Linked DNA regions of Homo sapiens. The gene in region 1 interacts genetically with each later gene. Each region holds a gene or a part of one and is shown in the gene's direction. Other genes may lie near its edges.

What was found.
Region 2: changes in BCAT2 (region 1) and PRODH together harm fitness more than expected from each alone (negative genetic interaction), as found in Homo sapiens cells (one large-scale study listed by BioGRID).
Region 3: changes in BCAT2 (region 1) and MMP25 together harm fitness more than expected from each alone (negative genetic interaction), as found in Homo sapiens cells (one large-scale study listed by BioGRID).
Region 4: changes in BCAT2 (region 1) and SLC5A5 together harm fitness more than expected from each alone (negative genetic interaction), as found in Homo sapiens cells (one large-scale study listed by BioGRID).

The regions. Positions count from the first base shown.
Region 1 is NC_000019.10:48,804,469-48,808,035, reverse strand, and holds part of BCAT2 (branched-chain-amino-acid aminotransferase, mitochondrial isoform a precursor), read left to right. Parts: exon of another isoform or gene 1-667; intron 668-961; coding exon 962-1,036; intron 1,037-1,318; coding exon 1,319-1,519; intron 1,520-3,567. UniProt on the Homo sapiens protein: Catalyzes the first reaction in the catabolism of the essential branched chain amino acids leucine, isoleucine, and valine. May also function as a transporter of branched chain alpha-keto acids.
Region 2 is NC_000022.11:18,933,437-18,937,548, reverse strand, and holds the start of PRODH (proline dehydrogenase 1, mitochondrial isoform 1 precursor), read left to right. Parts: upstream 1-1,255; 5' UTR 1,256-1,261; coding exon 1,262-1,534; intron 1,535-4,112. UniProt on the Homo sapiens protein: Converts proline to delta-1-pyrroline-5-carboxylate.
Region 3 is NC_000016.10:3,058,863-3,061,262, forward strand, and holds the end of MMP25 (matrix metalloproteinase-25 preproprotein), read left to right. Parts: coding exon 1-236; 3' UTR 237-1,864; downstream 1,865-2,400. UniProt on the Homo sapiens protein: May activate progelatinase A.
Region 4 is NC_000019.10:17,881,919-17,885,485, forward strand, and holds part of SLC5A5 (sodium/iodide cotransporter), read left to right. Parts: intron 1-41; coding exon 42-154; intron 155-230; coding exon 231-301; intron 302-1,762; coding exon 1,763-1,849; intron 1,850-1,931; coding exon 1,932-2,128; intron 2,129-3,567. UniProt on the Homo sapiens protein: Sodium:iodide symporter that mediates the transport of iodide into the thyroid gland. Can also mediate the transport of chlorate, thiocynate, nitrate and selenocynate.

The DNA.
Region 1 (3,567 bases):
CACAGGGCAGGCCAGGCCAGGCCACTCTGTCTCTCTCAACCTCACGCCCCAACGCCTCCCCACAGGGCTGGGGAAAGAGGCCTTGTGAGGTCAAAGGTCACCAGAGAGGGCCCAGCCTGCTGGACACAGCCAGACCTGCTCTTCCTACTCCCCTCTGGGAGGACCCGCCTGAGCCTCATGCAGTGAGGACTGCAGTGGCTCCCCAGGCCCCTGTAGCTGCCCCTCAGCCCCAGGGGCTGAAGGGAATTGGAGTCACTGCCAAAATGGGTTTGTATTTCAGGTAATCAGAGCCCAGTTGATCGAATACCTTCAGAGAATAAGCACCTGTACTCCTGGGTCTGGCGGAGGAGGGGCTGGGGAACTGGACTCCTGGGTCTGAGGGAGGAGGGGTGGGGCCTGTACTCCTGGATGTAAGGGAGGAGGGTCTGAGGCCTGGACTCCAGGGTCTGAGGGAGGAGGGGCTGGGGGCCCAGACTTCGGGTCTGAGGGAGGAGGCAGCTAGAGTCTGGACTCTTACTTAGGTCTGAGGGAGGCGGGCCTGGGGTCTGCACCCCTGAGCTCTGGGGGAGCAGGACCTGTCGGTCCTTGGTCTTCTAAGGCCTGTCAGCACTTGGGTACCCGGAGGCCTTCACTTACCTGTGTGCCTTCCCTGGTTGTTTTCTTGTCTGAGCTGATCTCCAGGCTGCGACCAAAGGTCTCTGGGGTGGGAGGCGCTTGCGTTTGACTTTGCCGCAGCATGGAGGAGGGGGCGGGAGCTGACTCAGCTCTTTCCAGCGAGCCCTCGTCAGGGCAGGGAGGGGACTTGGCCTCCTTCAGGACCACCTGCCCCGTCTAGAATGGACTGAAACTGGGACAGAACAGGCAGGCCAGTGGGACCTCCAAGTGCAGGAGGTGGCGAGCGAGCTGCCAGGGCCCCTGCTGTGCCCCACTCACCCCCTCTCTCACTTCTTTCTCCACCCAGATCTGGGCACGAAAGCTTCTCTCTGTCCCTTGGCTTCTGTGTGGTCCCAGAAGATATGCCTCCTCCAGTTTCAAGGTGAAAGGAGGGAACTCGATGCTTGGCTCTGAGAGAGGAGGGGGCTGGCAGCTGGTTTTGGGCATCTCCAAAAGGTCCACAGCCCAGAGATGGCAGTGAGTGGTGGTAGCTTAACAGCCTGCCATTGGGCCGCAGACAAGGGATGAAACTGCATGTCCCAGAATCCTCCAGGGTGACAGGTCCTTCTTCTCTATGGGTCTGAGGCCCAGGGCTTCATGGGAGTTGTAGTTTTTCAGCTGGGAGGTTGTGGCCAGATTCTAGGATACCCCTGTCTTTCCTCAGGCTGCAGACCTGCAGCTGGAAATGACACAGAAGCCTCATAAGAAGCCTGGCCCCGGCGAGCCCCTGGTGTTTGGGAAGACATTTACCGACCACATGCTGATGGTGGAATGGAATGACAAGGGCTGGGGCCAGCCCCGAATCCAGCCCTTCCAGAACCTCACGCTGCACCCAGCCTCCTCCAGCCTCCACTACTCCCTGCAGGTGGCATGGCGGCCGGCCTCTCTCCCTGTCCCTGTCTGCATCTCCTCCTCCTTGCTGTGTCTCTTGCCAGGTGTACCTCTCTTGGTTTGTTTGTTGTGTGTTTCTCCTTTCTGTGCATTCACCATTTGTTTTCTGAGGCCTTCCATGCTCCAGGCTCATGCTTGGTGATGCTGGGTTCCCCGAGATGAGCAGACCCGGTTCCTTCACTTGGAAAACCCCATGCTGTGGGCATAACTCAGTATGATCTGTGCTCTGATGGAGGCCCTGTGGAGGCCAGTAGAGACCCCCAGCCTCACTTGAAAGAAAGCATGGCTTCTTCTGGCATAGAGGGAAGCTTAGAGGGGGATGGTGGGAGAGGTGACAGGGTGATGGTAGGAAAGGGGACAGCCGGGGGGCTGGCGGGAGAGGGACAGCCAGGATGATCGCGGGAGAGGGGACAGCCATTGGGGGGGGAGATGGTGGGGGAGGGCACAGCCAGGGGGATGGCTGGAGAGGGGACAGCCAGGGGAGGGATGGCGGGAGAGGGGACAGTCAGGGGAGGGATGGCGGGAGAGGGGACAGCCAGGGGAGGGATGGCGGGAGAGGGGACAGCCAGGGGAGGGATGGCGGGAGAGGGGACAGCCAGGGGAGGGATGGCGGGAGAGGGGACAGCCAGGGGAGGCATGGTGGGAGAGGGGACAGCCAGGGGAGGGATGGCGGGAGACGGACAGCCGGGGGAGGGATGGCGGGAGACGGACAGCCGGGGGAGGGATGGCAGGAGAGGGACAGCCGGGGGAGGGATGGCGGGAGAGGGACAGCCGGGGAAGTGATGGTGGGAGAGGGCCAGCCGGGGGAGGGATGGCAGGAGAGGAGACAGCCCAGGGGGGATGGCGGGAGAGGGGACAGTTGGAGATGGCGGGAAGGGGGACAGTCGGTGGGGGATGGCAGGAGTGGAGACAGCCAATCCAAACCCCAAACGGGAGTAGAGCCTGGTACATTTGGGAGAAATTGCGGTGTTGGAGCATGGTTAAGGAGGCTGAAAATGTCAGGGCCATGGAGGAGCTGAGGGGCTGGGGCCTTGTCCAAGGGTGCTGGGAGCCACTGAGGGCTCTGAGGAAGGGAGGGGCAGGGCCATGTCTGGGTATAGTAAGAGCCCTCTCAGGCCATGTGGAGGGCAAGAGTTGCAGGCTAGGAAGCCGGGCTGGTGACCAGGTAGACCTTGGGCCTGTCCCCACATGGGGACCCAGGAGGAGGAGCGGCTTTGTGGCACCTGGTGAGCCTGAGATACTGTGAAGTTTCTAGGAGACAGATCCAGGAGGCATTTGGTTTTAGGACTTATAGCTGCGGCTGAAAGCAAGGTCTTCAGAAGGAAACTTTGGTTGAGACAAGATTTAAGTGAGCATCTTACAGCTCCAGTAACTGGTTAGCAGGTTGGCTGATTTTAGTCCTCCAGGGCACAGTTCTGTGGCATGAAGACTTTTATTCCATTCCTTTCTTTCCTTTCCCTCCCTCCCTCTGTTTTTTCCTTTCTTCCTTCCTTTCCAGAATTTTAAGGTTTTGTTTTTTCCCCTCTCCCCTCCCACTCTGGACATCTAAGCAACACCAGTCGATTCTGTACAGAGCACACACACCTCCAATCACAGCCAGACACTCCTGCCAGTACATAAGCGTGATGGGCAGGATTCCGCCTGCTGAGCCCCCAGGAAGCTGGTTACTTGGAGACCACCACACACTTCTCCCTTCAGCCCAGCACAGCAGTTGTCCTCTGGCTGGGGACCCAGTACTTTTTCTTCAGCTGAGTGAGAGCAGAGGAAGCCTGTGGCCCTGGCAGACAGAACGCACTGCTGTGATCCCGCGGGTCCAGGGGGCGGAAGGGGGAGGATGAGGGAGTAGGACAATGCTGTCCCTATGTCACCCACACTCCAGGGCATGTGTGGATTGCAGGCCGACCACGTGTATTATTTTTTATTTTATTTTTTCTTATTTATTTATTTAGAGACAGAGTCTCACTCTGTCCCCCAGGTTGGAGTGCAATGATACAATCTCGCTCACTGCAACCTCCGCCTCCC
Region 2 (4,112 bases), on another chromosome or scaffold:
AAGAAACTCCGTGGGCCTTGGCAGCCCCTCCCACTCCTCCCGTCCTCCACCTCCAGGCACCACTGCCAGTGCCATACTCACCAGGCTCCACTATGGGCTTGTCTTCGTGTGACTTCTGTCTCTATCGATTTGTCTATTCTGAACTCTTCATATAAAACGAACCATACAACTTGTGGCCGTTTGTGTCCGGAATCTTTCTTTAAAAAAAAAAATTCACCGGGCGTGGTGGCTCACGCCTGTAATCCCAGCACTCTGGGAGGCGGAGGCGGGCGGATCACAAGGTCAGGAGATCAAGACCATCCTGGCTAACACGGTGAAACCCCGTCTCTACTAAAAACATAAAAAATTAGCCAGGCTTGGCAGGCGCCTGTAGTCCCAGCTACTCTGGAGGCTGAGGTGGGAGAATGGCGTGAACCCGGGAGGCAGAGGTTGCAGTGAGCTGAGATCATGCCACTGCACTCCAGCCTGGGAGACAGAGCAAGACTCCATCTCAAAAAAAAAAAATTCACTTTTATTTTTGAGACAGGGTCTCCCTCCATTGCCCAGGCTGGAGTTCAGTGGCACAATCAGCTCACTGCAGCTTCAACCTCCTGGGCTCAAGCAATCCCCTCACCTCAGCCTCCTGAGTAGCTGGGATTACAGACATGCAACACTATGCCTGGTTAATTTTCTATTTTTTGTAGAGACGAGGTCTTACTATGTTGCCCAGACTGCTCTGGCACTCCTGGGCTCAAAAGATCCTCCTGCCTCGGCCTCCCAAAGTGCTGAGATTACAGGCGTGAGCCACCACACCCGGCTATTTTTATTTTTTAGTTGACACATAATAATTGTACATATTTGTGGGGTACGTAGTGATGTTTCTGTACGTGTATAGTGATCAGATAAGGGTAATTAGCATACCTATCATCTCAAACATTTATTATTTCTTTGCATTACGAACACTCAATATTCTCCTTCAAGCTATCTGAAAATACATAATTTTTGTTTTGAGACAGGGTCTCACTCTGTTGCTGTCTTCACGGAGAGCAGGAGCAGAGGCTTTGAGAAGCCAGTGGGCCTTGGCCTCAGCCCTGCCGGCAGAGGGTCCCCACCATGCAGCTGAAGTGCCAGGGTGCTTGTGAAGTCTAAGCCCTTGTCTGGCATTTGTCAGGAATATAGGGTGAGGCCTCTGGGACCGAGCGGGGCGGGGCGGGGCGGGGCGGGGCGGGGCGGGACCAACAGCGCACACTTAAGCGGCCCGGGCGGGTACCGCCGTCCCGCCATGGCTCTGAGGCGCGCCCTGCCCGCGCTGCGCCCCTGCATTCCCCGCTTCGTCCCGCTGTCCACGGCGCCGGCCTCCCGCGAGCAGCCCGCAGCGGGCCCAGCGGCCGTGCCAGGAGGTGGGTCGGCCACGGCAGTGCGGCCGCCGGTGCCCGCCGTGGACTTCGGCAACGCGCAGGAGGCGTACCGCAGCCGGCGAACCTGGGAGCTGGCGCGGAGCCTGCTGGTGCTGCGCTTGTGCGCCTGGCCCGCGCTGCTGGCGCGCCACGAGCAGGTGCGCGGGGTGCAGGCGGGGGCGCGGGGGCTTCTGCCGGTCCCGGGAGCCTTTACGGAGCTTCCTGGCCTGAAACGGGTGCCTCCCAAGCATCTCCTGGAGCAAGGGAAGCCAGGAAGGGAGGCGTTTCCTGCAGTCCCTCTCGGACCTCGCAAATTTTCCTATTTGTCGATGTCTACCAACTAAAAACAATGGTCGTTTTCATATTTACGATATATACCACTTGTGGGAATACAGAGTTATCACTTGGAATTTAAAATGGAGTATTCTTCATGTTGAGACAAGAGAATCCTGGTGTAGGGCTCATAGCCTGGAACCCCGGAATTCAAACCCCGGGACCCAGCAGCTTCCCAGACACGGCCACTCTGAGAACACTGTTGGGGAAAAATGGGAAGCCCCTCAAACGCCCAGCTTTGAACTCACCCATGGTAGCTTTAAAAAGTGTCAGGGCTTTTGGTGGCGGTGGTGGGGGGCAACAAGCAGAACACTGTTTTAGCCGCATCAGCCTAGGGGTACTAGAGATGACGGTTATCTCCAGGTGACCCTGGGAAGAGTTTGCAAGGTTCCGCTTTTTGGCGCCAGGGTATCTGGTGGTGTTGATTTCTCAGGTGAGACTGTACAGAGGTCGGGGGCTGCACCCCTGGCCTCAACAGGAGGCGGGGGAAGGCGGGGGACGGTGTCAGATGAGAAGCACCGAGCCACAGTTGAGCTTAGGTGAGGCCTCGGCGGGTGCGAGGTGAGGGCAGGGATCCACGAACTCAGAGTCAGATGCTGTTGGCCCGAATCCCATGGGGAGCGCCAAGGTCAGCCTAGGACCCGTGGTGGCGGGAGTGCGGAGGATGGTGGAGGAAGAAGGAGCTGAACTGGACAGATGGAGGGCTCTGGGAGGGCATTGCTGTGTGTGCACACAAGGATGTCTTAAGGTCAAGTTTTGGTCATAGAGAGCCCCGGCCAAGGAGACAGGAGGGCGAGAAGGGACATCCCAGGTAGAGGAACTGGCAAGGTGAGGGACGGCGATGTGGAGGCTTTGGGGAGTGCCCACATCTAAGGGGCATCCCAAAAGAGGAGCCAGTGCTGGTGGTGCTGCAATAGGAGGAGGAGGCAGCAGGGCAGAAATGCCAGGGGAGGGAGTGGCCAGCCACAGGTCCCTGCCCAGGGCAAGGACGGGCATGCTAGGTGGCAGCTGGGGCCAGTCGTGCAGAAGCCATGCCCACCTTGTGGCCGGGATGGAGTGGGGACTAGGAAGGCACCAGGTCAGGTTTCTGTAGGCACAGCCCTAAGCATGGCTGGGATGGGGAGGGGGCTAGGAAGGCACCAGGTCAGGTTTCTGTAGGCACAGCCCTAAGGTTTCTTGTCTAGATTCAAGACAAGTTGTTGCACAGAGAAGCCAGCAGAGCTGGGTGTGGGGTTTGGTGCCCAGTCTGCTGCGGGGAATGCCAGGTGCTGTTCCGTGACTGTGGGAGGAAACTGTTGGCTCCGCTGTCCCTTGGGTGCCTTCTTGAGGCAAGTGCCAGGGCTCAGGGATGGTGCTGTGAGTACCTGGAAGAGGCAGGGCATCCAGAGGTGACCTCTCCCAGGCTCCCCTAGGGTCCCACCTGTGCCCTGGGAAGTCCCTCAGTGGGGTCTGTACTGTTGTCTTGCTAGTGGTCCCATGGGTGTCGGCAGCCTCAGCACTGGAAGAAGGCAGAGGCCAGGTCCTGGGCTTGTGAGCTGCTCACTAGAACCTGGTCCTGTGAGCGGGCCAGAGGGGAGTTCCTTCCCTCACCCTCTGGGCTGTGGGGAGATTCCTTCTGCTGAGCCAGCACAGGTCTGTGAGGCACCCGGGCAGTGAGGCCACATCTGCCACAGGCGTGTCAGGTTGTAGTAGCTGATCTTTGAGCTGCTGCCTTGGATGGGGACAGCAGTGGGGCCCGCCCTTGCCTGAAAGCCAGACTTATTGAGGAGGGTTTAGGAAAGTCCCAGGATTTCCATGACAACAGCACTGAGGTTGGGTGTGCGCCCTCACAGAAGGGACAGGACCCGTGGTGACAGTGGTTCCCTGAGTGGGGGGAGGGGAGAGAACCGGCTCTACCAGTGTTACTCTGCACACATTTGGTTGAGTCTTTCACAGGGGGTACAAGTGTATGTGTTACTGGTGCAGGTTTCTAAATCCTCGAAGGATCTCCTCACCTGAAGAAGATGTGGGGCTGCCCTGGTCTCAGGTAGTGCCATGCGGGGACATCAGTGACACCAGGATGGTGTTAAAGTGGTTGCTTTGCTGTGGAGTCAGCTTTAAAATTACAAGCCCTAGGCTCATGCCTAGGCATGGTGGCTCATGCCTGTAATTCTAGCACTTAAGGAGGTCAAGGCAGGAGGATCATTTAAGGCTAGGAGTTCAAGACCAGCCTGAGCAACATCGTGAAACCCTGTCTCTACAAAATATTTTTAAAAGTTAGCTGGGGCCAGGTGCGGTGGCTCATGCCTGTCATCCCAGCACTTTGGGTGGCCGAGGCGGGTGGATCACCTGAAGTCAGGAGTTTGAGACCAGCCTGGCCAACATGGAGAAACCCCATCTCTACTAAAAATATAAAAATTAGCT
Region 3 (2,400 bases), on another chromosome or scaffold:
GCTTCCCCAAGAACAGCATCAAGACCGAGCCGGACGCCCCCCAGCCCATGGGGCCCAACTGGCTGGACTGCCCCGCCCCGAGCTCTGGTCCCCGCGCCCCCAGGCCCCCCAAAGCGACCCCCGTGTCCGAAACCTGCGATTGTCAGTGCGAGCTCAACCAGGCCGCAGGACGTTGGCCTGCTCCCATCCCGCTGCTCCTCTTGCCCCTGCTGGTGGGGGGTGTAGCCTCCCGCTGATGGGGGGAGCCATCCAGACCGAACAGCGCCCTCCACGGCCGAGTCCCCCGCCGCTGGACCTGGTCGGGGGTTGTGAGGCGCTGCGGAGGCCCCTTGTCTGTTCCCACGGACGGGGGCTCGGGCGCGGACTAAGCAGGGGGGATCTCCCGCGCAGGGGCGGCGGCGGCGGGGACCGGTCGCCTGGCGCTGGGCTCAGTCTCCTCAGGGTCTGAGACCCCGGCGCTGCCACCGGAACCCGCCTTCAGGGGCGCACGCGCGCTGGGACCATGCGTCGGTCGTCGCCCCCGTCGTTCCCTCCCGGCTGCCGCCAGGGGGCGGTCGGACCCCGCCTCCCGAGCCCGGGGAGGGGCGGGGAGGACAAGGGGCGGGCCCGCGGCCTCACCCGGAGGGACGGCAGCCCCGGTCGCGCGCTGGCCCCGCAGGACCTTCCTTTTCCAGGAAGAGCCAGCTTTTCTCGGAGCGCAGTCCTGGGACTCTCCGCAGCCCCGCCCCGCCTGGCCACTGCGTCTGGCATTCCTGGGTCGTTAGAGGACAGGCCTGACTGCGAAGCTGTGCCTTGCCCCTCTCCCACCCGCAGTTTCTCACCCCGTTCTGCTCCCACAAGGCCCCCCTACAGTCACTGCCACACTGGTGGGGACCTGGGACCCAGACCCGGAACCAGCCCAGATATCACCCCTGAGGACCCATGCGCCACGTCCTGGGTGGTGGAATCAGTGGCTGGAGGGACGACCCTTGCTCTCCAGGCTGTTAACCTTTTCCGTTGCTCCCCCGCCACCCACCTCCTCCTCCCCAGGCCACCCAACTTGGGCACCTCCCTGGGCCCAGAACTGCCTTCCATTCAATGGGGAACCCTTCTATCCCCAAGAACCCCTTCCCTGCTTGCACCCTGGAGAGAACAGCTTGACTCCCATCAACTCAACGCTGGTGGAAAGACAGGGACCGAACCCTGGCTCAGGCCTGGTCATTGCCTCCTCAGCACTCCCTCCTGGGAGGCCTTAGCTCTAGAGTGAGGGGTGGGTGGAACCTGGGGGCACCTCGTTCACCCTGTCCCCACTCCCCACAGTTTTAGGATCTAAATGATTGCCTCTGGAACTATTCTTCTAGACTATCCCACATCAGAATCACTGGGAAATTTAAGTTTGCAGATCCCACACTCACCCTGAATCCTCACTCAGGGTGGGGTCAGGAATCTGCATTTTAACTAGTCGCGGGGATTGTGGGGGGCAGTAGCTGGCTGTTTCGTGGCATTTCTGTGGCTCTGCAGTGTTCCTCCACCCCAGGACCAATATGTTCAGGCCACACCGATGGCCTGAACCCCATGGGTAGAGTCACTTAGGGGCCACTTCCTAAGTTGCTGTCCAGCCTCAGTGACCCCCTAGTGCTTCCTGGAGCTGAGGCTGTGGGCGGCTGTCCCAGCAACCATGCGAGGGGTTGCCCCAGTTGCTCATACAAACAGATCAGCATGAGGACAGAAGGCAGGAGACTTTGGTCAGTTACCTGGGAATTCTGGGCTGCCAGGAAACGATTTGGGCCTCTGTCAGTTTCTTTTCCATGTATGAGGAGGGGGAAATTTGTATATTAGAAACTTATTCATCCCACTCAGGACAATAAAAACGAATGTACAAAAAGCCCTTCCATTCTTCTGAGCATTGATGGACCTGGGGAGAAGTGTGGTGGCAGGAACTGGACTGACCTGAATCTCCCTGCTTCGCAGAAGGAATCCATGGTTGATGGGGAATCTAAGAAGGAAGAGTGGGCCCGGGCGTGGTGGCTCATGCCTTAATCCCAGCATTTTGCGAGGCCCAGGCAGACGGATCATTTGAGGTCAGGAATTTGAGACCAGCCTGGCCAACACTGAAATCCCATCTCCACTAAAAATAGAAAAAAAATTAGCCAGGCATGGTGGTGCATGTCTGTTATCCCAGCTGCTAAGGAGGCTGGGACAGGATAATCACTTGAACCCGGGAGAGGGAGGTTGCAGTGAGCCAAGATCTCACGATTGCACTCCAGCCTGGCCAAAAGAGCGAGACTCCGTCTCAAAAATAAAAATAAAAATAATAATAATAAGAAGAAAGAAGAGTGGGAGGACGAAGTAGAGAGGAATCGAAAAGTTGGTTATGGGGCACCCGGAGGACGGACGGCCACTGTGGAATTGAGACTGCCT
Region 4 (3,567 bases), about 31 Mb from region 1:
TCCATATGGCCTGAGGACCCCCCGCTGCCTTCCTCACACAGCACAGCATCCACCAGCATCAATGCTATGGCTGCAGTCACTGTAGAAGACCTCATCAAACCTCGGCTGCGGAGCCTGGCACCCAGGAAACTCGTGATTATCTCCAAGGGGCTCTGTGAGTTTCAGGGAGACCTGGGTGGGAGGCCAGGGCAGTCCCTCCCCGTTGACCGTGCCATCCTCATCCACTACAGCACTCATCTACGGATCGGCCTGTCTCACCGTGGCAGCCCTGTCCTCACTGCTCGGAGGAGGTGTCCTTCAGGTGAGACCCCACCTGCCCCCTGCCCTGGTCTCCTGAGAGGTGGGGGCACCTTTCCCTCTTTCCCATTAAACTGAGGCTCAGAGAGGTCACATGTGTCAGTGGCAGAACTCACTTCTATGTTTTTTTTTTTTTTGAGATGGGGTCTCACTGTGTTGTCCCAGGTTGGTGAGCAGAGGCCCGATCATAGCTCACTGCAACCTCCAGCTCCTGGGTTCAAGCCATCCTTCCACCTCAATCTCCCAAGTAGCTGGAGTTACAGGTGTGTGCCACCATGCCTGGCTAATTTTTTTCTTTTTTCTTTTTTTTTTTTTTTTGAGGTGGAGTGTCACTCTGTTGCCCAGGCTGGAGTGCAGTGGCATGATCTCAGCTCGCTGCAACCTCCACCCCCTGGGTTCAAGGAATTCTGCCTCAGCCTCCAGAGTAGCTGGGATTACAGGTGCATGCCACCATGCCCGTCTAATATTTTTGTATTTTTTTTTCTTGAGACGGAGTCTCGCTCTGTTGCCCAGGCTGGAGTGCAGTGGCACCATCTTGGCTCACTGCAAGCTCAGCCTCCTGGGTTCACGCCATTCTCCTGCCTCAGCCTCCCGAGTAGCTGGGACTACAAGCGCCCGCCACCACGCCTGACTAATTTTTTGTATTTTTAGTAGAGATGGGGTTTCACCGTGTTAGCCAGGATGGTCTCGATCTCCTGACCTCGTGATCCGCCCTCCTCGGCCTCCCAAAGTGCTGGGATTACAGGCGTGAGCCACCGCGCCCAGCTTATATTTTTGTATTTTTATTAGAGATGGGACTTCACCATGTTGGCCAGTCTGGTCTCGAACTCCTGACCTCAAGTGATCCACCCGCCTCTGCCTCCCAAAGTGTTGGGATTACAGGTGTGAGCCACCACGCCTGGCCTGGCTAATTTTAAAACTTGTTTTTAGAGACAGGGTCTCGCTTCGTGCCTAGGCTTGTCTTGAACTCCTGGCCTCAAGCAACCACCCGCCTCAGCCTTCCAAGTCGCTGAGATTAAGAACTAAGTTCTATTTGATGCCAGAGGCCATCAGGGGACTTTTTTGCAGCTGGCTGGCTTGGGGTGGGGGAATTGGGAAGGGGGAGGTGGCGACAGAAAGGGCCTCCCTATGGAGGTTGCAGTGAGCCAAGATCGCGCCACTGCACTCCAACCTGGACAGCAAAGTGAGACTCTGTCTAAAAAAAAAAAAGAAGAAGAAAGGGTCTCCCTGGCTTGAGGGTGGGACTGCCACCCCCAAGAGATAATCAGTGTCTTTGCCTCCAACCCAAGGGAGATAGGCAGGAACAAGGGGGGGGGGTCCTCTCCCCTTTAGGGAAACTGAGACACAGAGGAGTCCTTGAGACCCACATTGGAGTTCCTGAGGTCTCGCTTTCCCAGCGGGTAAACTGAGGCCCAGAGCGGTGGGAGGGCTCCGCCCTCAGCCCCACTTCCACCTACTCTCCCAGGGCTCCTTCACCGTCATGGGAGTCATCAGCGGCCCCCTGCTGGGAGCCTTCATCTTGGGAATGTTCCTGCCGGCCTGCAACACACCGGTGAGTGGGGGCGGGGCAAGGGGCGGGGAGGGGCGGGGCCGGACAGGCCCCTCCCCTTCCCTGACGCCGGCTCTGCCCCCAGGGCGTCCTCGCGGGACTAGGCGCGGGCTTGGCGCTGTCGCTGTGGGTGGCCTTGGGCGCCACGCTGTACCCACCCAGCGAGCAGACCATGAGGGTCCTGCCATCGTCGGCTGCCCGCTGCGTGGCTCTCTCAGTCAACGCCTCTGGCCTCCTGGACCCGGCTCTCCTCCCTGCTAACGACTCCAGCAGGGCCCCCAGGTGAGCAGACTTGAGGGTAGGGGGGTACCCGAGCCCTGGATGGTGTGATCTTGAAGGGAAACTTACTTGCCCTGCACTCTGTGTAAGAAGCCTGATTAGTAAAATGCATTCCTGGGGGAGGGAACGGTAGGTGCAAAGGCCCTGAGGCCACAATCGGGTTAGTCCCAGTCCAACTGCACTGAGGTTAGGGTGCATTTAATGGGAGGAGAGATGGGTGGGAGATATGGTGCAGCCAGAGGAAGCTAGTACTTTTTTTGTTTTGTTTTTCTGAGACAGAGCCTCGCTCTGTGGTCCAGGCTGGAATGCAGGGGTGCAATCTCAGCTTACTGCAGCTTCAACCTCTCAGGCTCAAGCAATCCTCCCAGCTTGAGGGAGGCCCAGAATTTGGTTTGGTTCTATTTTTTATTGAGATAAATTAGCCATTTAAAAGTGGCATTTAGGCCAGGCAGGCACAGTGGCTCACACCTGTAATCCCAGCACTTTGGGAGGCTGAGGCAGGTGGATCACCTGAGGTCAGGAGTTCAAGACCAGCTTGATCAACATGGGGAAACCCCCGTCTCTACTAAAAATACAAAACTTAGCCAAGCGTGGTGGCAGGTGCCTGTAATCCCAGCTACTCGGGAGGCTGAGACAGGAGAATCGCTTGAACCCAGGAGGTGGAGGTTGCAGTGAGCTGAGATCGCACCACTGTATTCCAGCCTGGGCAACAAAAATGAAACTCCAACTCAAATAAATAAATTAAAGTGGCATTTAGTATATTTGTGCAACCATCACCACTATCTAAGTCAAGAACGTTTCCTCTTTTTTTTTTCTAATTTTGTATTTTTAGTACAGATGGGGTTTCACCATGTTGGCCAGGCTGATCTTGAACTCCTGACCTCAGGTGATCCGCCCACCTCAGCCTCCCAAAATGCTGGGATTACAGGTGTGAGCCACTGTGCCTGGCCCCAAAAACATTTTCTATTTTTTTTTTTTTTTGGAGCAGGGTCTTGCTCTGTTGCCCAGGCTGGAGTCCAGTGGCACGATCATAGCTCACTGCTGCCTCAACCTCCTGGGCTCAAGGAATCTTCCTACCTCAGCCCCCCTAGTTGCTGGGACCACAGGTGCACACCATCATGTCCTGCTTGTTTTTATTTTTATTTTTTGTAGAGACAGGGTCTGGCTATGTTGCCCAGGCTGGTCTGGAATTCCTGGGCTCAAGCGATCTGCCCACCTCAGCCTTGCAAAGTGCCAGGATGACAGGTGTGGGCACCCAGCCAACCAAGAACATTTTCTGTTTTGTTTATTTATTTATTTATTTATTTTGGTTTTTTGGGTGGGTTTTTTTGCTTTTTGTTTATTTGATTTTTTGGAGACAGGGTCTCACTCTAACACCCAGGCTGGAGTGCAATGGCACAATCACAGCTCACTGCACCATTGACCTCCAGACTCCGATGATC